Linked DNA regions of Homo sapiens: regions 1, 2, 3 and 5 are each linked to region 4. The links come from fine-mapping of genetic effects on gene expression. A gene starts in region 4. Each other region holds a variant in brackets. All regions are shown on one strand. Distances are between the middles of the regions.

Evidence for each region. PIP is the estimated chance that this variant, and not a neighbour inherited with it, causes the effect.
Region 1: its variant is the best candidate, but not a certain one, in a credible set for the expression of CHLSN in prefrontal cortex (GTEx, PIP 0.50).
Region 2: its variant is the best candidate, but not a certain one, in a credible set for the expression of CHLSN in caudate (GTEx, PIP 0.62).
Region 3: its variant is the best candidate, but not a certain one, in a credible set for the expression of CHLSN in whole blood (TOPMed, PIP 0.74).
Region 5: its variant is the best candidate, but not a certain one, in a credible set for the expression of CHLSN in putamen (GTEx, PIP 0.64).

What each region holds. Positions count from the first base shown.
Region 1 is chr7:996,093-1,001,193 of GRCh38, reverse strand. CHLSN (cholesin) reads left to right here. Exons shown (of 5, transcript NM_001318252.2): 4 at 643-724; 5 at 3,390-4,188. The coding sequence ends at 3,569. Among named protein-coding and RNA genes, the nearest start is that of CYP2W1, 15 kb to the right of the region's middle. RefSeq lists enhancers at 1,370-1,959, 3,416-3,956. The variant A/C (reference allele first, on the strand shown) is at 2,641.
Region 2 is chr7:1,002,700-1,007,800 of GRCh38, reverse strand. The region is part of intron 3 of CHLSN (cholesin); the gene reads left to right. It overlaps LOC124901570 (a long non-coding RNA gene), which reads right to left and starts at 3,642. Exons shown (of 3, transcript XR_007060184.1): 1 at 3,389-3,642; 2 at 2,356-3,012; 3 at 1,730-2,013. The variant C/G (reference allele first, on the strand shown) is at 2,577.
Region 3 is chr7:1,029,994-1,035,094 of GRCh38, reverse strand. All of the region lies in intron 2 of CHLSN (cholesin), which reads left to right. Among named protein-coding and RNA genes, the nearest start is that of MIR339, 9.5 kb to the right of the region's middle. RefSeq lists silencers at 4,140-4,269, 4,330-4,429. The variant G/A (reference allele first, on the strand shown) is at 2,771.
Region 4 is chr7:1,135,436-1,140,536 of GRCh38, reverse strand. CHLSN (cholesin) reads left to right here and starts at 2,290. Exons shown (of 5, transcript NM_001318252.2): 1 at 2,290-3,222. RefSeq lists silencers at 1,881-2,020, 2,221-2,670, 2,681-2,730 and an enhancer at 2,061-2,160.
Region 5 is chr7:1,598,463-1,603,563 of GRCh38, reverse strand. It overlaps LOC105375123 (a long non-coding RNA gene), which reads right to left. Exons shown (of 8, transcript XR_001745048.2): 4 at 4,654-4,855; 5 at 1,397-3,138; 6 at 1,172-1,266; 7 at 56-283. Among named protein-coding and RNA genes, the nearest start is that of PSMG3-AS1, 31 kb to the right of the region's middle. The variant G/C (reference allele first, on the strand shown) is at 2,662.

The sequences.
Region 1 (5,101 bases), 140 kb after region 4:
GGCCCTGGAAACACGTATCTGGGAGGAGGTCTCTGGAGTAAACCCTGCCTGGCCCTGCCCTACCCACAGCGCCAGCTTCGCTCCATCCGCAGCTGCCTGATGTCCACAGGCCCTAGTGCAGGAGCGGGACGGGGGCGGGGTGGTTGTGGCCCTGGGGAGCGGCCCCTCTAGCAGCCGGGAGCTGCTCGTCCCCAGGCCCACTGGCCCCTTGTTGTGAGGGCCTGGGACTCAGGGTATTGTTCCTTACAGTCTTCCCATTTTCATGTAGAAAATACATCATCAATTACATCGCTCCCTTTCCTCCCAGAGAAACTCACTTCATCCTTCCCCCCCTGTAAAATCCGTGTGACCCATGGGGTGGGGGAGCCCACGGGGACTTGGGGTCAGTGGTGAGCCCCGGGGTGGCCAAGGTAAGAGTGGCGTCCACATGCTTCCTGGTCAGGCGGCAGCAGGGCGTGGGGTTGCGGCTCCTCGCCTCGGGCAGGGGAGGGGCTCCAAAAACCCTCTTCACATGAGGCCTTGGTGTGTAGTACCTGGTGGGGCTCCCTCTCCTAAGATGAGGCGTCCCCGATCTCTCAGGGCAGACAGCTGCCCGGGAGTCTTTTGCCCAGCACCCTGAGATGTTTGTCTTTCTTTCCCTAGATGGGCCCAAAAGCACAAGAACTGGAGGTTTCAGAAGACGAGGCAGACGTGGCTCCTGCTGCACATGTATGACAGTGACAAGGTGTGTGCACGGCGGGGCAGGCACGTCTCCTGGGGGCTGAGGTCTGTGCACGGCGGGGCAGGCACGTCCCCCCGGGGGCTGAGGTGTGTGCACGGCGGGGCAGGCACGTCTCCCGGGGGCTGAGGTGTGTGCACGGCGGGGCAGGCACGTCTCCCGGGGGCTGAGGTCTGTGCACGGCGGGGCAGGCACGTCTCCTGGGGGCTGAGGTCTGTGCACGGCGGGGCAGGCACGTCTCCTGTGCACACTGGGGCCCTGACAGCAGAAGCCACAGTCTGAAGGGGCCGCCCTCAGGGCCCCACTGCAGGGCAGGTCTCCCGGTGCCTTTGTTCTAAGAGATGAGCAGCGTTGCCTCCTCCAGGAGCCCTGCCGCCGGCCTTCAGGGCAGAAACCAACACGGGGTAACCTTAGGGAGGCCACCTGCACGTGTGCGTGTGACGTGTGTCTACACGTGCGTGTGTGCATGACGTGTGTCTACACGTGTGTGCGCGTGATGTGTGTCTACACATGTACGTGTGGGCAGCTGCCCTTTTCAGGGGCAGGATGTGAGATAGAGTTTCACAGGATGAAACGAGACAGAATTCTGAACTAAACCCGGCTGCTGGGCGGCGGGCTGGAGCTGCCCATGTCCTGTGAGGCTGGAGGAGCCCACGGTTCTGCTGAGCTGCATCCGGTGGGCAGTGCCTCCTGCCTCGCTGGCTCTCCTGCGCCCACGTTACTAGAGGCCAGGCTTTGCGTGCGCGCTGGGGGCAGGGGGCGGTTTTCTCCTGCCGTGCCTGTGTTTGCAGACTCTCAGAGCGGGGCAGGCCCACCAGCCCCACTCACAGCCCTGGGACATTCCAGGCATAGCCTGCAGCCACTTGCTTTCATTATTTTGTTGTTTTTGTTTTTTTGTGGGCGTTTTTTGAGACAGGGCCCCGCCCAGGCTGGAGTGCAGTGACACGACCACAGTTCACTGCAGCCTCGACCTCCTGGGCTCAAGCCACTCTCCCTCCTCAGAGTTAGAGGACATACACATTGCAAGCCCTATTGCAAGCCGATTGTAAGCCCTATTGCAAGCTCCGGTAATCGCGACACTGGGGCAGGCACAAGGGTGGAAGTAGAATTGACTGGAACAGCCTGGGAAGCCTGGAAACCCTCACGCCCGGCGCAGCTGATTCCAGCATGCGGGCCAAGCCTGTTCCATGTGGAGGAAACCTCTTCTTAACAGAGCCAGGGACAACTGGGTTTCCACGTTTTGTTTTGTTTTAACCAAAGTTTACGTGGTTTTATTTATATGTTACTATTACCAAAAGTAAACTTTATACAAAACTTTTTATACAGAAAAATAATCCTTGGTTAGGCAAATCCTTGGTTAGCCATTTATATGTGTGTATACACACACACACACACGCAAAGTTATCTTACACTATTGTAATTAAACATATTTACAAACACACAAATGTGCATTTTACTTATACATTTTTATTTCATATGTAACCGTACATATTTACGAACATGCCGATACTTAATGCACGCAGCCCCCAGCTTCAAACCATATGCAAAAATTAACTCAAAATGGATCAGAGACTTAAATTTAAAAGCTAAAACCAAAACTCTTAGATGAAAGCCTAAGAGTCCATTTCGTGCCCTTGGGTGAGGCAACAGTTTCTTAAATGTGACTCTAGAAGCACAAGCGACAAAGGAAAAAGTCGAGAAAGTGCCTTCATCAGGATCTAAGACTGTGTAGCCGGGCGTGGTGGCTCACGCCTGTAATCCCAGCACTTTGGGAGTCTGAGGCGGGTGGATCACTTGAGGTCAAGAGTTCGAGACCAGCCTGGCCAACATGGCAAAAACCCCGTCTCTACTAAAAATACAAAAATTAGCTAGGTGTGGTAATGCTTGCCTATAATCCCAGCTACTTGGGAGGCTGAGGCAGG[A/C]GAATTACTTGAACCTGGGAGGTGGAGATCGTGCCACTGCACTGCAGCCTGGACAACAGAGCAAGACCGGCTCAAAAAAAAAAAAAAAAAAAAAAAGAATCTAAGACTTTGCACTGCATACAGAACTAGCTGGAAAGTGAAATGGTTGCTACAGAATGGGAGACGTTTGCAAGTCCCACATGGAATTAGAACTCTGCTAACTCAATAATAAAAAGAGCCCAGTGTTGAAAGCCGCTGCCACAGGGACCTGAGGAAACGTGCCTGCAGAGCAGATTGTCAGGTGACTGGTGAGCCTGTGCAGAGGTGCCCCCACCACCAGCAGACAAGGGTCAGGCCACCAAGAGATGCCACCTGGCCACTGCCGCCCTGAGCAGAAAGGCGAGCGTGCCAAGTGCCGGCGCGTACTTGGCTTTTTGTTCTGAATGCACCTTTCATCACCGCCTACCCCTGTTTAATTTGTGTCGTATTTTCTCGTTTTTCTGAGGATTTTTACGATGTTTGTGAAATGTTCTCCCCACATGGCTTCTGTTTTACCCAGGTTAATTGAGTGTTTTGTCTGCCTCTAAACAGGCATTTCTTCTTCCAGTGTCTGGGGCAGGGTCTGTGGCCAGGCCGCCCACACCCTCGGGCCGCAGTGGGAGGACGGAAGCCTGAGGCCCGGGTGTCCTTGGCTGCAGCGTCTTGTCTCCTGCTGTTCAGCGGCCCCTCCCTGCCCCGCCCCTGACCAACTCGATCTCTTTCCCGTCCAGGTTCCCGATGAGCACTTCTCCACCCTGCTGGCCTACCTGGAGGGGCTGCAGGGCCGGGCCCGAGAGCTGACGGTGCAGAAGGCGGAAGCCCTGATGCGGGAGCTGGATGAGGAGGGCTCTGATCCCCCCCTGCCGGGGAGGGCCCAGCGCATCCGACAGGTGCTGCAGCTGCTCTCCTAGTGGGTTCAGCGCGGGGCGGGGCCGCTGCCCAGTGCAGGGCTGCCTCAGACCACACAGGGTGCAGCTCCTCCGGCGGTGGGGGCCGGGTTCACCAGCAGGGCAGCGGCTGAGCAAGGGCTTTCAGCTCCTCCGGTGGTGGGGGCCGGGATCACCAGCACCAGAGCCTCGCAAGGGCCCCTTCCCTCCTCCAGACCCTCCTTGGCCGGTGACGGCTGTGACAGTGATGGCAGGTTCAGTGCCTTCAGCGCAGAGCGTGGATGCTCTGGAATCACCCGGACCCCTGGCCTTGGAGGGACCCTCCAGCCCCAGGAATCTGCTTTGGAGGGAAATGTCTATTTTTCTACCGGGAATATTTTAGAGATTGGGGCATGCTGGCTCCTCCCGCCAGCTGCAAACCTGCACCTTCCGCCTGATTCCCGATCCCCCTGCGTGGGCCGCATTCCTGGTCCCCTGCCTGCGTCCATCGAGGGGCCTGGCTGTGGCCTGTTTTCCTTTGACCCCACACAGCGTCATTGCGGGTCATGGGGAGCCCCTGGTGGGAGCTTGTGGAGTCGGATCACGTACCTGTGCAGAAACCGCCTCTGTGGCTGCATTTGAAATAAAACCCGACCCAGCAGCAGCCGTGGGTCCTGCTCTGTGCGGTGCGTCCCCTGCCTGTGGACTGCGGAATTCGTGTCCCCCATGCCAGCGCACGCCAGGCTGAGACCCCGCCCTTGGTGGCCACCCCAGGATGGCATTGGGGGCGCTCTGTGTGTGGCGTTCCTGGCAGTGGGTGCTGGCTGATCGCTTGCGTTCAGGCCGGCCGTTTCCCAGCGCTGGCAGTGACTGACCCTGCCAGGAAACACACTTAGGCCGCACAGAATCAAGCCACACACTTCCTGTTCCCAGCAGCACGTGGTCCCTGCCCCCAAGTGATGTGAGGTGCCGCGGGGCACCGGGAAGGCCGTGGTGACCGCAGAGCTCTGGGCAGCTGCCGGGGAGGGCCGGGTGGCCATGGCGAGGAGGTCCGTGCCCCACTGTGAGGCCAAGTCTGTTCCAGGATGGGCCCCGGGGAGGGCTGAGGCCAGTGGCTCCGGTCTGGGCCTCCACAGAGCAGACACCCAGGTGCTGCTGCCCCGGGGCCGCCTCCTGCCCAGCCCAGGTTGGGGGTTTGTGCTGCCGTCTCAGTGCTCCCCCAACTGACGGTGGAGCAGAAAAGTAGCTGCAGCCGCCACCTGGCAGCCTTGGGACGCTGGCTCAGGCCCTGAGTGCCCCCTTGGGTGCCCCGCCCCCCAACAGAGCTCCTGAGGCTGAGGTCAGGCTGCCTGCCTTGGCTGCCACCAACGCACAGAGCTGCATGCAAGCCGGGAGGCGGGAGCACGGCCGGCCTCACCCTGTGAGAGCAGAGTCACAGGCTCCGGGCTGTTGTTGTGGGGAGGGCCTGGGGCTTCCCGTGGCCACTGCTGGCCTGGCTGGGCCTCCTCAGCCGTGGCCCTCGGGGCCTGCACCTCAGAGCGGTGACTGGCCTCACTGTGACCCACGGACGTCTACTG
Region 2 (5,101 bases), 130 kb after region 4:
TCTCCCCCTCTGGGACCTTCCCGTGGCCCCCTCATGCTACTCGCAACCCCCCAGCGGCAAGTCCTGTGCGGAGGCACTGTGTCCTGCGTGTGGGAGGAGGGGGGACTCTTACTTCTCAGAAACAAAGCAGCCCCTTCCCACAGGAGCTTCTTCCAAGGCCTGGGATCCACACACCAGGAGGCCAGCCACAGACACGGGCACCCCGGCAGGAGCTTCTCCTCTTTCCTGGGGGTCTCCAAGGGTGCCCGCAAGCCCAGCCGCATCTGGCTGCCAGATCAGAGCCCACGTGGATGTGTGGAGCCCACGGTATCCCTGGCAACTCAGGGTTTTCCAAAGAGAGGGAGCCCGGGGATTCCCACAGGGGAGTGTCCTCAGCCTGGGGGCTGCTGGGGACCACTGGCCACGCCACGGCTGGCCCACCACAGAGCCCCCAGCCCAGGGGCAGCGGTGAAGGTAGGTGCCCGAGTTGTCCTCCCCCTGCAGAGGCCCTGGACTGGGACTCAGGAAGGACATGCTGGCCGCCGTGGCCCATGGCCATCTTATGGGCTTTCCACGAGGGGTTCCTCCTGGAGGCAAAGCCATCTGCAGCCAGGTGGGCTGTGTGTGGAGGAGACCCCGGATTGTTCTGGTGAGCCCTCATGGTGGAGAGTTTCCTCTCATCTCTCTGGGAGGCACCCCACCCATTCCAGGATGCCCTGGGGGTCTCCCCTCCAGATCCCCCGAAGGCTCTGCCCCCAAGACACGTCGACCCAGCGCCCGTGGGGTCTTCATGCCCCGTCCCTAGAACCCGGGTCGCAGGCTGGGCAGCATCCCCACACGGTGACCTTGGCCTGTGACCTGTGACCATACCCTGGGCTGTTCTTGCATCTCAAGGGTTCATCTTCTCTGCAGCCTTCCTGGGGTGCTCCTGGCTTTGTGTGAAGCTGGGGCTGGTGGGAGCTGTGCAGCAGGGCTGGGGAGAGGAGGGTCCAGAGGGTGGGATGGGGGATTGTGGCCGTCATGCGCTCTTTCCCTGCGCTGTGGCCGTCGTGTGCTCTTTCCCTGCAATGTGGCCATCGTGCGCTCTTTGTCTGCGCTGTGACCGTCATGCGCTCTTTCCCTGCAGTATGACCGTCGTGCGCTCTTTCCCCGCGCTGTGGCCGTCGTGCGCTCTTTCCCCGCGCTGTGGCCGTCGTGCGCTCTTTCCCCGCGCTGTGGCCGTCGTGCGCTCTTTCCCTGCGCTGTGGCCGTCGTGCGCTCTTTCCCTGCGCTGTGGCCGTCGTGTGCTCTTTCCCTGCAGTATGGCCGTCGTGCGCTCTTTCCCTGCGCTGTGGCCGTCGTGTGCTCTTTCCCTGCGCTGTGGCCGTCGTGTGCTCTTTCCCTGCGCTGTGGCCGTCGTGCGCTCTTTCCCTGCAGTATGGCCGTCGTGCGCTCTTTCCCTGCGCTGTGGCTGTCGTGCGCTCTTTCCCTGTGCTGTGACCGTCGTGTGCTCTTTCCCTGCACTGTGGCCGTCGTGTGCTCTTTCCCTGTGCTGTGACTGTCCCCTCGTTTTCCCAGCAGGGGCCCCAGGCTTGGTCACCCAGCTCTGTTTTTCCAGCTCAGAGCCGTGTTGCTCTGGCCTTGCATAGGCGGAAGTTTGGGAGTGCTGGAAGCAGTCCCTCCACTTTCTGTGGGTCTCTGGGTTGCTGGGTCCACTGTGGTAGTTACACGAGCGAGGCACACGGCTGTCAGCGGGCAAGCCTGTTCCTCATTAAAGAGAAAAAAGAGTTTATTTATATGCTTAACGCAGGAAATTGAAGATTTACTTTCCATATAACTGAAAAAAGAAAAGAACACGCCTGCTGGGTGTTCACGTTGGGGGCAGGTGGCGAGGTGACCGCTGCCTCCCTGGTCCCTGCAGGCTTTAGCTCACCATTTTCGGGGGCCGGCCCCCTGCCTGGGTCTGCTCGAGGCGGGAGGTGGTGCCCCCACAGGAGAGAGAGGAACTGGGACCCGGGCCACACGGATCCAGCCGGGACGGGGTCCCCCACTCACCTGCGGGAGGACGAGAGCAAGTCACTCCTGCCGTGGGGCAGCCCAAGCCCACCCTCCTCAGGTCCCCATGTTGCCCAGCACAGCATGGTGTCTTAGCTTCCTTGCACCCCGTGGCCTCCGGGCCTGGAACCCTGGAATGACAGGCCAGAGCAGAGGCCAAACTGTCCCATCAGCGGAGCTTAGGGGACACTTCTTGGGTGTCCTTCCCTACCCAGGCCCACTGCCCCGCTGCCGAGGGACAGCCCAGCTCCAAGTATGGGAGGAGCGGCCAACCCATGAGACCCGGCCCCTGTCCGCGCCAGCCCCGCTCGGGCCTTCATGGGCATTGGGTCGTCAGCTCACCGCGGCTGGCAGTTCCTGGTGCAGTTACGAGCACGTGGACGCTGTGGCTGCGGGCCGGCTTCAGATGCTGTCTCAATAGAGACCCTCGCTCAGTTTTCTTTTGGAAGGGGGTTCAGCAAGAAGTCCCCGCTTTTTGTGGGTTGATTTGTTTGTTTTGAGATGGAGTCTCACTCTGTCGCCAGGCTGGAGTGCAGTGGTGCAATCTCGGCTCACTGCAACCT[C/G]TGCTTCCCAGGTTCAAGCGATTCTCCTGCCTCAGCCTCCTGAGTAGCTGAGATTACAGGCATCCGACACCACGCCCGGCTAATTTTTTGTATTTTTAGTAGAGACAGGGTTTCACCGTATTAACCAAGATGGTCTTAGTCTCCTGACCTTGTGATCCGCCCTCGGCCTCCCAAAGTGCTCAGCTTACAGGCATGAGCCACTGTTCCCAGCCGCCCCTGCTTTTTTTTAAAGCCCAGTAGGCTAGCAGGGACTCTGGTTCTCCACCCAGCTGGTGAGTACCACAGGGGAGGAGGTTCTTCTCTCTGGGACGCTCTAGGCAGCTCTGGACAGATGACCCTGCAGTGGCCGTGGCCCCCGCTATGCTGGGGACAAGGGACTTCCCTCTGACTGCTCTCTTTCCTTTTCCAAGATGGGATCTCCTGTCTGCTGCCCCACCTAGGCAGAGAGAAAGAGGATTGTGTCAGGCATCCTGTGAACTGTCTGCAGTTGCGCAGGGACCAGTCCCCAGGGTGGGTGGCAGAGGCGGCCATCACTCAGGAGGCCTCGCCCAGTGCCGTGGGAGCCACAGGCGACACTGAGCACCCCACCCGCCCCTCGCTGTGTCTGCTCCCCCAGTGACGAGGCCAAGAGCGGGACGGCTCATCTTCGGTGGTGAGGGAGATGGGCTTGGCTTGAAGTCTGCCTGGTGGGGGCTCGGTGAGAGAGAGGCGCCCTTGGTTCAGGGCCGTAGGCAGCAGTGCCGTGGGCCAGCAGTGCTGTGGCCTCGGGCCCCATGGGAGGGCAGTGTGCAGAGCAGCTGTGACTGACTCACCGTGCGTGGGCTCTGGGAACACCCGTGAAGTGGGGTCACCACTCCACGTTCCCAAGGAGGAAACAGGCTGGTGGAAAGCAGCAGCTCAAGGTGGGAGAGTTAGAAAGTGGCAGAGCTGAGATGCCAACTTCTGCCCTGCAGCAGTAAAACAGCCCCCAGCAGGCAGATGCCATGGCCTGGCTGGCCCGGGTGCACCTCACAGGGGCCCACGCTGGCCGGGTCGGCCATCCGGGGAGCAGACGACGAGGGGCTGTCTAAAAAGAAAGGAACTAAAATTAAACCTCCCTGGAGGCCCCTCTCATCACGCAGGAGCCCTGCGTCACTGCACATGGGGCTGGCGTGTCACCTAGCAGCTGCACAGCTGGGCTCCACACCCGCAGGACTCCCCACCCGCAGGACTCCACTCACCCACAGGACTCCCCACCCACAGGACTCCACTCACCCACAGGACTCCACTCACCCACAGGACTCCCCACCCACAGGACTCCACTCACCCACAGGACTCCACTCACCCACAGGACTCCCCACCCACAGGACTCCAAACCCACAGGACTCCACTCACCCACAGGACTCCACTCACCCACAGGACTCCCCACCCACAGGACTCCAAACCCACAGGACTCCACTCACCCAAGGACTCCCCACCCACAGGACTCCACTCACCCACAGGACTCCACTCACCCACAGGACTCCCCACCCGCAGGACTCCACTCACCCACAGGACTCCCCACCCACAGGACTCTACTCACCCACAGGACTCCCCACCCGCAGGACTCCACTCACCCACAGGACTCCCCACCCGCAGGACTCCACTCACCCACAGGACTCCCCACCCACAGGACTCCCCACCCACAGGACTCCACTCACCCACAGGACTCCACTCACCCAAGGACTCCCCACCCACAGGACTCCCCACCCACAGGACTCCACTCACCCACAGGACTCCACTCACCCGCAGGACTCCCCACCCGCAGGACTCCACTCACCCACAGGACTCCCCACCCACAGGACTCCACTCACCCACAGGACTCCACTCACCCACAGGACTCCCCACCCACAGGACTCCCCACCCACAGGACTCCACTCACCCACAGGACTCCACTCACCCACAGGACTCCACTCACCCGCAGGACTCCACTCACCCGCAGGACTCCACTCACCCACAGGACTCCCCACCCACAGGACTCCACTCACCCACAGGACTCCACTCACCCACAGGACTCCCCACCCGCAGGACTCCACTCACCCACAGGACTCCCCACCCACAGGACTCCACTCACCCACAGGACTCCCCACCCACAGGACTCCACTCACCCACAGGACTCCACTCACCCACAGGACTCCCCACCCGCAGGACTCCACTCACCCACAGGACTCCCCACCCGCAGGACTCCACTCACCCACAGGACTCCCCACCCACAGGACTCCACTCACCCACAGGACTCCACTCACCCACAGGACTCCACTCACCCACAGGACTCCCTACCCACAGGACTCCAAACCCACAGGACTCCACTCACCCAAGGACTCCCCACCCACAGGACTCCACTCACCCACAGGACTCCCCACCCGCAGGACTCCACTCACCCACAGGACTCCCCACCCACAGGACTCCACTCACCCACAGGACTCCACTCACCCAAGGACTCCCCACCCACAGGACTCCCCACCCACAGGATTCCACTCACCCACAGGGCTCCACTCACCCACAGG
Region 3 (5,101 bases), 110 kb after region 4:
CCAGCACTGTTCACAGTCGCAAAGACATGACACCAGCTGAAATGCCACCAATGGCAGATTGGATGAAGAAAATGTGGTACATATACACCATGGAATACTATGCAGCCATTAAAAAGAGTGAGATCATGTCTTCTGGGAACATGGATGGAGCTGGAGGCCATTATCCTTAGCAAAGTAAGGCAGGAACAGAAAACCAAATACCACATGTTCTCACTATAAGTGGGAGCTGAATGATGAGAACTCATGAGCACAAAGAAGGGAACAACAGACACAGGAGTGAATTTGAGGGTGGAGGTGGGAGGAGGGAGGAGGAAAAGGAGGGTGGAGGGTGGGAGGAGGGAGAGAAGGTGAAAAATAACTACTGGGTACTAGGCTCAGTACCTGGGTGATTAAATAATCTATACAACAAACCCCCATGACACAAGTTTACCTGTATAACAAACCTGCACAGGCACCCCTAAACCTAAAATAAAATTTTGAAAAAATCACATTGCTAACATGGGGCACCTCCTGGGTTCACTGTTCTCTGTTCCTCTGTGTGTCTCCCACTGCCCGTGCTGCACCACAGCTGTCCGATGTCCCGAAATCAGGCATGCAGTTCCTTCTAGTCATCGTATTTCAGCGCTGTTTTAGCTATCCTTGTTACTTTGCTTTTCCATATACGTTTTAGAATAATCTTGTCTTTACCTACAAAAAAAAAAACCCTGAAATTTACGGTAGGAGTTGCATGAAACATGTACCTCAATTTTGGGAGAATTTATGTCTTGACTCTGCTGTCTGTTCTGTCCATTAACACAATGTGTCTCTCCATTTATTTGGATTCTTCAAAGTTTGTTTCTTCAGTGTTTTGTGGTTTTTAGCATTTAAGTCCCATACAGGTTTTGTTAAATTTACAGCTAAGCATTTCCTTGTTGCTGAGCAGTCGTAGGTGGTGGTAGCACGGGAATGCCAGTTTCCGCGAGCCCATTGCCAGCTCCCTGACTGTCTGCGGTCCCATGCCTTCTGAACCCACTCACAGTCCCAGGATTTATTTCGTAGATTCTCTGAGATTTCCTGCATCAACGGTCATGCCGCTTGCAAATACAGAGAGTTATATTTCTTCCTTTCTGGTCCTTTTCCTGCCTGTGGCCCCCGGCCAGCCTGATGCTGGATAGCAGTGGGGACAGTGGGAGGGTGGACACCCTTGCCCTGCTCCTGGCCTTGGAGGAGCACCTGCAGATGTGCCTCACCTCACTCAGGAGGCACCTCCATTACTGATTTCCTGGGTGTCTCCTCCCCTCACTCAGGAGGCACCCCCATTACCGATTTCCTGGGTGTCTCCTCACCTCACTCAGGAGGCACCCCCGTTACCGATTTCCTGGGTGTCTCCTCACCTCACTCAGGAGGCACCTCCGTTACCGATTTCCTGGGTGTTTACCACGCGTGGGTCTTGAACTTCGTCACATGCCCCCTGCATCAGTTGGTTTGACCACGTCGTATTTCTTCTGTAGCCTGTTGATAGGGTGCATTATATCGATGGTATTTTTTTTTTTTTTGAGACGGAGTTTCGCACTTATTGCCCAGGCTGGAGTGCAAATGGCGTGATCTCGGCTCACTGCAACCTCCACTTCCCAAGTTCAAATGATTCTCCTACCTCAGCTTCCTGAGCAGCTGGGATTACAGGCATAACCCACCACACCCGGCTAATTTTTGTGTTTTTAGTTGAGACGGGGTTTCTCCGTGTTGGTCAGGCTGGTCTTGAACTCCCGACCTCAGGTGATCCGCCCGCCTCAGCCTCCGAAAGTGCTGGGATCACAGGCGTGAGCCACTGCGCCCGGCCCAATGGATTTTTAAATAGTGAGCGAGCCTTCCACCTCTGGAGTGAACTCCACTTGTCATGCATGGTGTGTGACTCTTTTTCCATGTTGCTGAGTAGGATGTTTGCGTCTGTATTTATGAGGGATATTAGTCCGTAGTTTTGTTTTCATCTGGTTTGGGTATCAGGGTTCTACTAGCTTCACAGACCGAGCTGGGCTGTGTTCCCTCGTATCGAGGTAGTGGTAGGTCTTCTTTCAGTGTGTAACGGACTTGCCGAGACTGTCCGTGGCCTGGGTCCGCACCGCGAGTGCACAGAGGAGAGGCCCTCCAGCAACCTGGGGCTCACAGGTTTCCCAGAGAGGGGGTATCCGGGCAGGGTAGTGAGGAGCGTGCAGGATTGGTCAGGCAGACAGTGTGACTGGGCTGGAGGAAGGATGCTTGGGGCAGAGGCGCTGCCCACATACGTGCAGTACCCTAGCATCGTGCTTTCTGGCGACTCCGACCAGTGTTTTCTCTTGGGGACCTGCTGATTGGGTGGTTTTCCTGCCCCTGCCTGTCATGGACAGACTGGAGCAGCCCAAGGGCACCACTGTCACCTGAGGGTGCCTGGCGGTGTGGGCGGGTGGCTGCAGCCTCTGAGGGCCACTGTCACCTGGGGGTGCCTGGAGGTGTGGGCGGGTGGCTGCGGCCTCTGAGGGCCACTGTCACCTGGGGGTGCCTGGCGGTGTGGGCGGGTGGCTGCGGCCTCTGAGGGCCACTGTCACCTGGGGGTGCCTGGCGGTGTGGGCGGGTGGCTGCGGCCTCTGAGGGCCACTGTCACCTGGGGGTGCCTGGCGGTGTGGGTGGGTGGCTGTGGCCTCTTAGGGCCAGGGCCTCCACTTCTCAGGGCCTCCTGGCCCTCACACCTCCACAGTGGATTCTCGTGATGCCACGAAAGTGATTTGGCAGACAGGAGCCTCGCCGAGGCCTCCAC[G/A]GCACCTTCTCTGCTCTGGCCAACAGCAGATCCACCTGCGGGGGGCTTCATCCTCAGCCCCAGGTTCCATTTCAGAGACTTTATTTTCAGGCGGGCCGAGTGCGAGGGACGTGTTGGGGCAGCCCCGTGGGCCGGGAGCAGTTCTCTGGATCTGGGGCCCATCTACCCTGCATTCTCTGGGGCGTGGTGTGTCTGGGAAGTGGGGCCCACTGACCACCTGAGCAGGGCAGTTAATTAAAAGAATGCGTCAGACATAGTTATGTCTTTTTTGAATGACTCAGAATGTTCCACATGGTCTTGGGGTGCCTGGGCCCAGGTTTCGAAGGCGAATTCTCATTACCTGGGGAAGGTTTGGTGACCAGGTTGCTCTCACCCCCTCGGCACGTCCTCGCAGCCACCCCGCACTCTCGGCCCGTTCCCCGGGTGGTGTTTGCTGGCCGCCCCCCGCACCTGGACCACTCTGCCCTCCCTGCAGGTCTCTGCCGCCCCGGACCACTCTGCCCTCCCTGCAGGTCTCTGCCGCCCCGGACCACTCTGCCCTCCCTGCAGGTCTCTGCCGCCCCGGACCACTCTGCCCTCCCTGCAGGTCTCTGCCGCCCCGGACCACTCTGCCCTCCCTGCAGGTCTCTGCCCCCCCGGACCACTCTGCCCTCCCTGCAGGTCTCTGCCGCCCCGGACCACTCTGCCCTCCCTGCAGGTCTCTGCCGCCCCGGACCACTCTGCCCTCCCTGCAGGTCTCTGCCGCCCCGGACCACTCTGCCCTCCCTGCAGGTCTCTGCCGCCCCGGACCACTCTGCCCTCCCTGCAGGTCTCTGCCCCCCCGGACCACTCTGCCCTCCCTGCAGGTCTCTGGTCCCCCGGACCACTCTGCCCTCCCTGCAGGTCTCTGCCCCCCCGGACCACTCTGCCCTCCCTGCAGGTCTCTGCCCCCCCGGACCACTCTGCCCTCCCTGCAGGTCTCTGGTCTCTGCCCAGGAGCCGCCTGTGGTGCTGTTTCGCTGATTTCCTTCCTCCCCCAACCATTTTAAATCTCAGAAAAACAGCCTACCCTTAACTTTTCTCCTCAGTATTATTACAGCCTCAGCATAGCCTCTCAATGGGCACGCATCTTTGTCTTGTTCTGTCCAGATATGTAGCGTGTGGAACGGCATCCCGTGTACGGAAGCAGTTCACCAGCTATCTGGGGGCCCTTCCTTTCCTCTTGGCCCCTCCTCCTGACCAGGACCTGCCGACCTGCTGGGGGAGGGGGCTCTAGGGTCTCAGTGTGGACCACTGGCCACTGATGCTTCAAGCCAAGGCAGTGGGAGGGCTCCCTCCTGGCCACTCCACCCTTGAGACTGTACTAGGTACAAGGGGCCCTTAGCTCAGCCTGGGTGGATGCATGGACTGGTGCGTTTGTGGAGGTGGTTGGATGTGCCGGTGCAGTAAGCAGCCTTGCACCTGCTGCTCTGTGTTGGGGCCCGGGGTGTGGGCTGTGGGAAAGCAGGCATGGTGGCACCTGCCCAGAGAGAGCCCCACCTGCCCAGAGAGTCCCACCTGCCCGGGGAGAGAGAGAGAGTCCCCGCGTGCCCCGGGAGAGAGAGAGAGTCCCCCCCTGCCCCGGGAGAGAGAGAGTCCCCGCCTGCCTGGGGAGAGAGTCCCACCTGCCCAAAGCCACAAGCCTATGTGTGCCTTCATGGGTCTGGGGACAGCACAGCCCTACAGGTGGGTCACTGGGCAGGACCTAGGAAGGCATAGCAGCTGGTATGTGTCCACCTTTGCTGGGCTTGGTTCCCCCTCTGTGAAGTGCAAAGAGCAGGGTAGCTGGAAGCGTGAGATGGAGTGGAGTGAAGCCCCTGGGTCCTCAGCCGGCACCACGTCCCCATCCCTGTGGGGCTAGTGGCCCAGCCCGGGGGACTGCACCCCACTGCCAGGCCAGCTTCTCCCGCTCCTGCTCTTGTCCTTGTCTCCCAAAGCAGCCCAGAGCCACCAGCACAGAACTACGGGGAGAAGAAACCTGGTCCCCGGGCTCAGGTGTGGAGGCGGGTGGCTGTGCGAGTTGGTGCGTTGGTGAAGACGGCATATGAGCAGGATTGGCGCGTTTATGGAGGTGGGTGGATGCGTGGGTCGTTGCGTTCGGGAAGACAGGTGGATGCGCGGAGTTGGCGCGTTCATGGAGGCAGGTGACTGTGTGGGCTGGCGCATTCATGCTGGGGACACACTGGGGAGTCAGCACACAAGGCCACTGGGGCTCAGAAGGCCCAGAATTGAGTCCCTCCCATGAAACCGGTGACTGAGCACACACTTCCTTCTCTGAAAGCGGGGTGCGGACACCAGTGGCAGAGACACTAA
Region 4 (5,101 bases):
CACCAGGTCCCTCCCACAATGCATGGGAATTATGGGAGATACAATTCAAGATGAGATTTGGGTGGGGACACAGCCAAACCATATCAATTTCCAAAAATAAAAATGAAAAAAAATTATTTTCCTTTTTTCCTTTTTTTTTTTCACCCAGGCTGGAGTGCAGTGGTGTGATCATAGTTCACTGCAGCCTCCATCTTCCAGGCTCAAGCAATCCTTCCACCTCAGCCTCCTAAGTAGCTGGGACTATATGCGTGCACCACCACACCCAGCTAATTTTCTATTTTTATTTTTGTAGACATGAGGTCTTACTGTTTGCCCAGGCTGGTCTTGAACTCCTGGTGTCCATCCATCCTCCTGACTCAGCCTCCCAAAGAGCTGGGATTACAGGCCTGAGTCACTGCACCTGGCCATGATTCACTTTTTTTTTTTTTTTTTTTTTGAGCTGGAGTCTTGCTCTGTCGCCCAGGCTGGAGTGCAGTGGCGCGGTCTCAGCTCATTGCAACCTCTGCCTCCCGGGTTCAATAGGTTCTGATGCCTCAGCCTCCTGAGTAGCTGGGATTATAGGTACATGCCACCATGCCTGGCTAATTTTTGTATTTTTAGTAGAGATGGAGTTTTGCCACGTTGGCCAGGCTGGTGTTGAACTCCTGACTTCAAGTGATCCATCCACCTCAGCCTCCCAAAGTGCTGGGATTACAGGTGTGAGCCACCGCACCCGGCCGACTTCTAATGAACAGAATATGGCAAAAGCCTAGGGAAGTCACTTCTGAGATTAGGGTGCAAGGAGACTGTGATGTGCGTCTTGTGTGTGCCTCCTCTTGTGTGTGCTTGCACCGTCTAAGGCAAGCCAGCTGCAGTGTTGTGAGCTTCCTTGTGGTAAGGCCCATGTACCAAGGAACTGAGGGTGGCCTTTGGGCAGCAGCCAGCAAGGCTGAGGCCCTTCTCTAATGACCTTGGAGGACTGAGTCCTTACAATATCCGTGTGTGTGAGCTTGGGAGTGGATCATTCCAGATAAGCTTTCCGATGAAACCACAACCCTGGGGGGACACCTTGACCACAACTTGGTGAACCCTTGAGGCAAAGGCACAGAGCTTAGCCACGCCCACTTTCCTGACCGCGGATACCATGAAAAAATAAATGTTCTTTTAGGCTGCTAAATGTTGGGTTAATTTGTTATGCAGAAAAAGGAACCAAATACAATCTTCTACCAGTAAGGAAGAGTGCACCTTCTTTGCTTGTCACCTTTGGATTCCTGAGGCAACGTACATCATACTTGATACGGCTGCCAAGCACTTAACTTACTGGGTGACTTGAAAGCATGCTTTTTTTTCTTTTTTTTTTTTAGACGGGGTCTGGCTCTGTTGCCCAGGCTGGAGTGCAGTGCCTTGATCATAGCTCACTGCAGCCTCCATCTCCCAGGCTCCAGCGATCCTCCCACCTCAGCGTCCAGAGTATCAGGAACTACAGGCACGTGCCACCATACCCGGCTAATTTTTATTTTTTTAATTTATTTTTTATTTTTTAAAACAGAGTCTCATTCTGTCGCCCAGGCTGGAGTGCAGTGGCACGATCTCGGCTCACTGCAACCTCCACCTCCCGGGCTTAAACGATTTTCCTGCCTCAGCCTCCCGAGTAGCTGGGATTACAGGCACCTGCCACCACGCCTGGCTAATTTTTGTATTTTTAGCAGAGACGGGGTTACGGGGTTTCGTCATGTTGGCCAGGCGGGTCTCGAACTCCTGAGCTCAAGCGATCCGCCCGCCTGGGCCTCCCAAAATGCTGGGATCACAGGCGTGAGTCACCGCTCCCGGACACAAGCATTATTATAACACTACCCACCCTGTGTATTTTTTAGCACCTATCCTGATTTTTTAAATTCAGCACGAAGTTTAAGTCCTAGCCCTGTTGATCCCAATAGCCGTAGCTCATCCATTTCGACTCCGAGCCGAGCTCCATACCCTGGACCCTCGGCGGAGGCCCCACCCCGGGACGCCAGCCCGGCCGGGGCAGCTTGCACCCCAGACCCCCAAGCCCTGCGGGGCCCAAACCTAGTCATCTGCACTTGTTCTGGGCAGGGCGGGTTGCCTTGGCAACCAGCTCCTCTCCAAGCAACTCTAGGCCTCTAGAGATGGCGTCAGTAGCCCGCGCCCGGTCCTGGAACCGCCCCCCGTGCTGCCGCCGCTTGCCATTAGCCGGCGGAGAGACGGACGCAGACCTCGTCCAATGGGAGGCTCCGCACTCCTGAAGGCGGGACTAACGCTTACCTGGGGCGCGGGTCCCTGCCGGAAGGCGGCGTCCGCGACGCAGCTGTTCACGCTTAGGTGGGCGACGTGGGCGCAGGTGGGCGCAGGTAGGCGCGTGGGGCGGCGGCGGGGTGGCCGGCGGGTCAGGGCGCCAGGAGACCCAGAGCCCCGGGGCGGGCTCCCGCGGGGCTCCGCCCCCTCCACGTGGGTGCGCGGAGGCCCGGCGCGGCGCGACCGGGCGGCGGCCCTGGGGTCCGCGGTGCTGGGGAGGCTGGTGCGGCCGGTGCGGCCGGTGCGTCCCGGCGCGGGCTCCGACACCCGCACCCGCCTCTGGGTTAACTCAGCGCGGGCGAGTGGAAGGGACTCAGCTGGCTCCTAGGTTTCAGGCCGTCAGGGCTTGCAGTGGCTCTGGTTTCATTGTCTTTCTCTGAAGACGCCCTGATTGCCCTCCGAGGCTTTCAGCTCCCACTTTCTCTTTTTCAATTTTTGAGGCAGTGTCTCGCTGTGCCACCCAGGCTGGAGTGCAATGGCGTGATCATAGCTCACTGCAGCCTCCACCTCCTGGGCTCAAGCCGTCCTCCCGCCTCATCCTCCCAAGTAGCTGGGACCACATGCGCGCGCCACCACACCCGGATAATTTTTAAAAATGTTTTTTGTAGAAATGGGGTCTCACCATGTTACCCAGGCTGGTCTCGAATTCTTGGGCTCAAGCGATGGATCCTCCTGCCTCGGCCTCCCAAAGTGCTGGGATTACAGGAGTGAGCCAACGCGCTTGGCCTCACTTTCCATCATAAGCATGCTTTCCGTTTCCTTCCTTCCGTCATTCATTCATTCATTTTTAAAAAACGTTCATTGGGTTCCTCCTGCACTGTTCGGGGCATTGGGCTACAGCTGTCAACAAGTGGAGACAAGTCTGTGATCTAGTGAACTTCCATTCTGGAGGGGAGAGACAGATGAACAAGGTGCACAGAGCAGGTGATGGTAAGTGCCATGGAGAAGATGAGAACAGGGGTTTTGAGAATGGAAAGGAAGCAGGAGGAGGAGTGAGGCACCAGAACATTCCAGGTCGAGGAAACAGCAGGTGCAGGGGAAACAGCAGGGAGCCCAGTGTGGCTGCAGCCAATTTGGGAACAGAGAGAGAAAGAGGAGGTGAGTTCCCAGAGATGCGAGGAGGGGCCAGGGCAGTCGTGTGGACCTTACCAAGTGGCAAGGACCTTGACTTTCCCTCCAAGTGGAAGGGGACAGCTTGGGAAGTTTTTTGAGTGGAGGTGACACACCATCTGATTTAGGAGTTTAAAAGCCATCGTGAGAGGTGGTGGCTTGGACTGGGTACCTATGGGATCTTAAGGGAGTCACATTCTGGGTGTATTTCAGTGGTAAACCAACAGGAGTTTGTGGTGGGTTGGACGAGTATGTGAGAAAGAGAGGATTTATGGATGGACCAAGGTTTTAAGCTTGAGCTACTATGTGAACCTCATCAGATGGATGTTTATGGAGAGGATGAACACTAGGAAGCTCAGGTTTGTGGAGGGTGATCAGGGGTATTGATTACGAATTCTTAAGCTTGAGATGATATATGTGTAGATGATATATATAAGTACATATATATGGTTATATATATAGTTATATATATACACAGTTTATACACACATCCGCATATATATATTTATTTTTATATATTTATATATATTTATATATGTTTATATATGTTTATATATGTTTATGTTTATATGTTTATATATGTTTATATATGTTCATATATATGTTTATATATATTTATATATGTTTATATATATTTATATGTTTATATATGTTTATATATTTATATATGTTTATATATGTTTATATATATTTATATATATGTTTATATATATTTATATATATGTTTATATATATTTATATATATGTTTATATATTTATATATATTTATATATATGTTTATATATATTTATATGTTTATATATTTATATATTTATGTTTATATATATTTATATATGTTTATATATATTTATATATATTTTATATATTTATATATGTTTATATATATTTATATATATTTTATATATTTATATATGTTTATATATATTTATATATTTGTGTATATATTTATAATTATGTATATTTATACATATTTATGTATATATATTTATATATTTATGTATATATTTATATATATTTATGTATATATATTTATATACACATTTATATAAATTTATATATACTTATATTTATATATATTTATATATACTTATATATTTATACATATATTTATATATACATATATATTTTATATATATATTTATATATGCTTATATATTTATATATACTTATATATATTTATATATATTTATATATACTTATATATTTATATATACTTATATATATTTTTATATATACTTATATATTTATATATTCATATATATTTTTATATATTTATATAAATACATATTTATGTAAATATATTTATATATTTATTTTATATAAATAAATAAATAAATTGTGTATATATATATATATATATATTTCTTTTTGAGGTGGAGTCTCACTCTGTTGTCCAGGCTGGAGTGCAGTGGCGCGATCTCGGCTCACTGCAACCTCCACCTCGTATTCAAACGATTCTCCTGCCTCAGCCTCCCGAGTAGCTGGGTTTACAGGCAGGTGCCAGCACACCCAGCTAATTTTTGTGTTTTCAGTAAAGATGGGGTTTCACCATGTTAGCCAGGCTGGTCTCAAACTCCTGACCTCAAGTGATCTCCCCGCCTCGGCCTCCCAAAGTGCTGGGATTACAGGCGTGAGCCACCGTGCCCGGCCATACACATACATATATATACACACATGTAGATATATGTGTATAAACAGT
Region 5 (5,101 bases), 460 kb before region 4:
GACAGGCCTTCGAGAGGGTCTCGATGGAGAGAGTAAGACCAAAGAGACATCGCACCAGCCTCCCAGGGTTGCCGGAACAAACGCCACACACCAAGCGACGCCGGCCATGGGCATTCATCCCTCACAGTCCTGGAGGCTGAAGTCCGAGACCAAGGCGTGGGCAGGGCTGGTTCCTACTGAGGCCTGTCTCCTTGGTTTGCAGACGCTGTCTTCCTCCTGGGTCCTCACAGGGTCGTGCCTCTGTGTGTGTGTGTGTCCTGATCTCCTCTTCATATAAGAACACCTGTCAGATTGGATTAGGGCCCACCCCTATAACTTCACTGGACTTTTGTTTTTGAGACAGGGTCTTGCTCTGTCACCCAGGCTGGAGTGCAGTGGCACCATCACGGCTTACTGCAGTCTTGAATTCCTAGGCTCAAGCAATCCTCCCACCTCAGCCTCCCAAGCAACTGGGACCACGGGCGCAACAACATGCCCAGCTAATTTTTCTTTTTTTTTTCAGTAGAGATGAGGTCTTGCTATGCTGCCCAGGCTGGTCTCAAACTCCTGGGCTCCAGCGATTTTCCCACCATGGCCTCCCAAAGGGCTGGGATTACAGGCATCAGCCACTGTGACCACTGTTTTTTTGTTTTTTTCTTTTCTTGTAGAGATGGGGTCTTGCTCTGTCCAGCCCAGGCTGGTCTCGAACTCCTGGGCTCAAGTGATCCTCTCGCCTTGGCCTCCCCAAAATGTCTGGATCACAGGCGTGAGCTGCCACACCCAGTCTCCTCATTTTACTGTCACCCTCTCTTTCAAGGCCCGGGCTCCAAATACCATCCCATTCTGAGGCCCTGTGGGTTAAGACTTCAACATATGAATTTAGGGGGACAAAATTTAACCCATAACGGATGCCATCTGACCTCCAAGGCTGGGTCCTCAAAGCGAACACACTTGCCCCCGGAGCCCAGGTGCGGGGCCGCGGGGGTCCCAGGCCACGTGGACAGGAACCAGGGCCTCTGGTCCTCGGCGCTGGCTGAAATTCCAGCCGAGACCCAGACCCATTTTCCAGCAGCCCTATGAGGTGCGGACGCCATCATTCCCATTCCACAGAGGAGAAGACAGAGGCCCAGAGAGGACAGGTCGCTGGCACCTTCCAGAGAAGGGCACGTGGGGGATCTGAATACTCACACACCTTAACTGCCCTCGGTCCAAGCTCTTCATCATGATACTTCAGCCTGGGCCGTCATCCCTGATCCGAGGCTGCACCTGGAATGACCGAGGCCTCACCTGGAAGGCACGGCCCCAGCAGCCGGTAAACATCCTCAAGGAGCGGCGGGAAGCAAGGACAAAAGGCACCGAAATGGCACAGACAACAAGAGCCCCGGGCGACGGGCTCGGTCCTGCCTGGTCTGCTGACCTGCCCGCCTGGCGGTGAGAAGACTGGGACCCAGACAGAGGCCGGTGCGTCCGGGCTGACCCAGATGGCCCCACAGTGCGGAGGTGCATCCCGAGGACGTTGAAGAATCTTGGCACCGGGAGGGCTGAGGCTGGAGGAGGAGTTAAGTCCCAGGACCCCCACCCCGACGGGACCCTCCTGGGTCTGGTAGCAGGCGGGTGACACAGGGGGGCTCTGGGTGTGTGCCCACCCTGCTTCTCTTCATCTGCTTCTTACTTCACTCTTCCCTCCTGGCTGCCTCCCTGACCCCTTCTCTCCTTCTCCACTTTTTTTATTTTTTTTTTTAAGATGGAGTCTCCCTCTGTCTTGCTCTGTCATATGAGGAGACCGGGTGTGGCAACTCATGCCTGTGATCCAGACACTTTGGGAGGCCAAGGCGAGAGGATCACTTGAGCCCAGGAGTTCGAGACCAGCCTGGGCTGGACAGAGCAAGACCCCATCTCTACAAGAGAAGAAAAAACCAAAGAAACACTGGTCACAGTGGCTCTGTCACCCAGGCTGGAGTGCAGTGGCGCGATCTCAGTTCACTGCAGCCTCTGCCTCCCGGGTTTAAGCGATTCTCCTGTCTCAGCCTCCCAAGTAGCTAGGATTACAGGTGCCCACCACCACGCCTGGCTAAGTTTTGTATTTTTAGTAGAGACATGATTTCACTATATTGGCTAGGCTGGTCTCAAACTGCTGACCTCAGGTGATCTGCCCGCCTCAGCCTCCCAAAGTGGTGGGATCACAGGCGTGAGCCACCACACCCGGCCCCTTCTCTCCTTTCTCTGAAAACCAGACTTTAGATTTCCCACATCCGGTGGGAAATAAAGCTACCCCATGGCCACCAGCAGGGACAAACCCACTGTCCCCAATTCCCCCAAATAACTGAGAAAGAGGATCTGACTGTTTCAGCTTCAGCCCTGGTGTACGGGGCAAGTTTTCCCTGGGTAGCAGCTGAGCCCCACCCTGGACTGGCAGGTTCATCCTAAAACCGCCAGCTCCCAACACCGCCAACTCCATTGCACCCACCGGATTTAACCCCCTGCGGGCTGCTTCTCCTGCCCTATCCCCCACAGCGCTGGCCACAGCACCCCACAAACAGAGCCTGCTCCCCGACACCCAGGCGGGATGACAGGTACCTCAGAAGCTCTGCATGAACGTGACCTTCCCCGCCTTGCTGGGTACAGCACCCAGAAGTGGAAAAGTGATAGGAATCTTGGCTGGTCCACCAGGAAAAGGAACAT[G/C]GTGTTGGTCCCAAGGCCTCCACTTTAGAGACACTGGAAAACCAGACCATTCCCAGGGACCAAGGTGGGCTGGACCCAGACATCAGCACACATATGCGTGCTTAAGGAATCAGAGGTGGTCAGCAGCAGATGAGAGAGCCACTTCCTTGAGGACAAGGAACGGGCATTATTTTGTGTGTCTTCAGAGGGCAGAACAGAATCAGCAAAAGCAGATTTGACCAAACCCAACCAACATTAGACTTTGCCACTCCTAGAGGTAGTGAGCTCTCTGTCACTGGAGGTATTCAAACAGAGACAGGACAGCTATGGGTCAGGGACATCGCACAAGGTGAGTGTTTGGCCTTCAGGCTCCCTCGGGTTCTTCTCTGATTGCTGCCATCCTGGGCTGGCTCTAGGGAGAGAGCGTGCAGTCCTCTCTGTCTAAAAATGAACTCTTGCTTCTCATCATTTCTGTCATGTTGCGCCCGACAGTAACAGCTGTTAAGAAATCACATTTGTACCTTTTCAGGAGCTCTCTTGAACTTGGAGTGCAAATTAACTTCATGTGATCTGAAATATAAAAGGTCGCTTCTCCCACAAATTAAAAATCCAGGAGATGCTTGCCAAGCTCACGAGCAGATCAGGTTCTGCGGGGACGTGAGCCACGGAGGACTCGGCGGCCACCCCGCTGCCCTATGCACGGGGACGGCTCCTGCTGCCCTCGCTCAAGGCCATCCACTCTGGTCACAATGTCCCCAGCTGCGGCCTCTTCGACCTTCTCCGCCAGCATTCAGGGGGATTCTGTCCTCCATTTGAGCTCTCTGGGCTTCCAAACACCCTGAACACCCAGGACCCTGAGGGGCTTGTCTTCCTGGCTTCCTGCCAGAGACCCTCATGTCGCAAACAGGCGGGCATCGCCCAGGGCCTCCACTCTCCCCCGCCTCACCAGGGAGGCCCTGCCAGGCCCTGTTCTCCCCAGTCACAGGCGTCCCAGCACCCAGCCCCTCGGACCACAGCCCCGAAGGTGCGGGAAGCTCTGGCTTCTCCCTGTTCCTGCCCCATAACTCCCTGCTGATAGTCCCAGCCACCAGGACCGGGCTCCCCGCTCCTGTACCTCCTCCCAGTTCTCTCGGGTCCACACTGGTCACAAGTCCCACACATCTGGGGTGTTGTCACCCGGGCCTGGCCCTGGGGAAGCTAAATGGGAGCTGAAGTCGTTGACAAGGACACAGCCCAGAGAGGCCAAGTGACTTCCGCATGGCTGCACAGCCCCTTCGAGGCCTCGCCTGCTGGGAGCCACCTCTCCTCGGACCCCACACAGCCTCAAGCACCACCGCAGCTGAGCCTCTGAATCCCAGTTCCAGAGTGACCTCCCCACCAAGTCTGGTTCTCCAAAACCCTCCCACTGTCGCTCCAGGGATGGGCTGGGCCTCACAACAGCCACCCCTCCTACCCGCCTGATCAGCATTTTCAGAAGCCCACGCCCACAGATGCTGCCTCCCACCACCCCGCCCACCCATGGAACCCCACAGACCTTGCTCCCACCACAAACTGTGGCCATCACAGGTGGGGTGGTGTCCACCAGAGCCCCTCTCTGGGGTTCTGCATCAGCACAGCCCCACCCCCCACCCTTTCTCCTGTGCAAGACCCTTGGCCTGGGAATTCCACTCAGCCCAGGACACTCCTGTCTTGCTGCCAACCAGAAGTCTGACCCGCCTGGCAGGGCAGCCCACCCCCTGCACACCTGCCAGGTCAGGCTCAGCCTGGAGGGCTCCAACCTGGCCCAGTCACGCCCCCGGGGGCCTGCGCACCACTGGCCTTCTGAGTCTCTGAAGGCTGCACACCCCGTCCACACACCTGTGCACACACATGTCTATTCACTGTGTCCCCACCCAAATCTCATTTTGAGCTGTAGTTCCCCACCCAAATCTCAGTTTGAGCTGTAGTTCCCATAATCCCTACGTACCATGGGAGGGACCCAGTGGGAGGTAATTGAATCATGGGGGCGATTACCTGCATGCTGTTCTCGTGATAGTGAGTGAGTTCTCAAGTGATCTGATAGTCTGATAGTTTTCCCTGCTTCACGCTGCACTTCTGCACTTCTCCTTGCTGCTGCCATGTGAAGAAGGACGTGTTTGCTTCCCCTTCCGCCATGACTGTAGTTTTCTGAGGCCTCCCCAGCCATGCTGAACTGTGAGCCAGTTAAACTTCTTTCCTTTATAAATGACCCAGTATTGGGTATGTCTTTATCAGCAGCATGAGAACAAACTAATACACCTGTCCACACACACCTGTGCACATGCCTGTCCACACACACACACCTGTCCACACCCCTGTGCACACGTCTGTCCACATATTTGTCCACACACCTGTGCACCTGCTGCCTCCCTCTGACACATCTTCCCTCTGCAGCCGACACCCACTGAGCCTGCCCTGGCCAGTCCTGCAGAAGGCCAGCAGC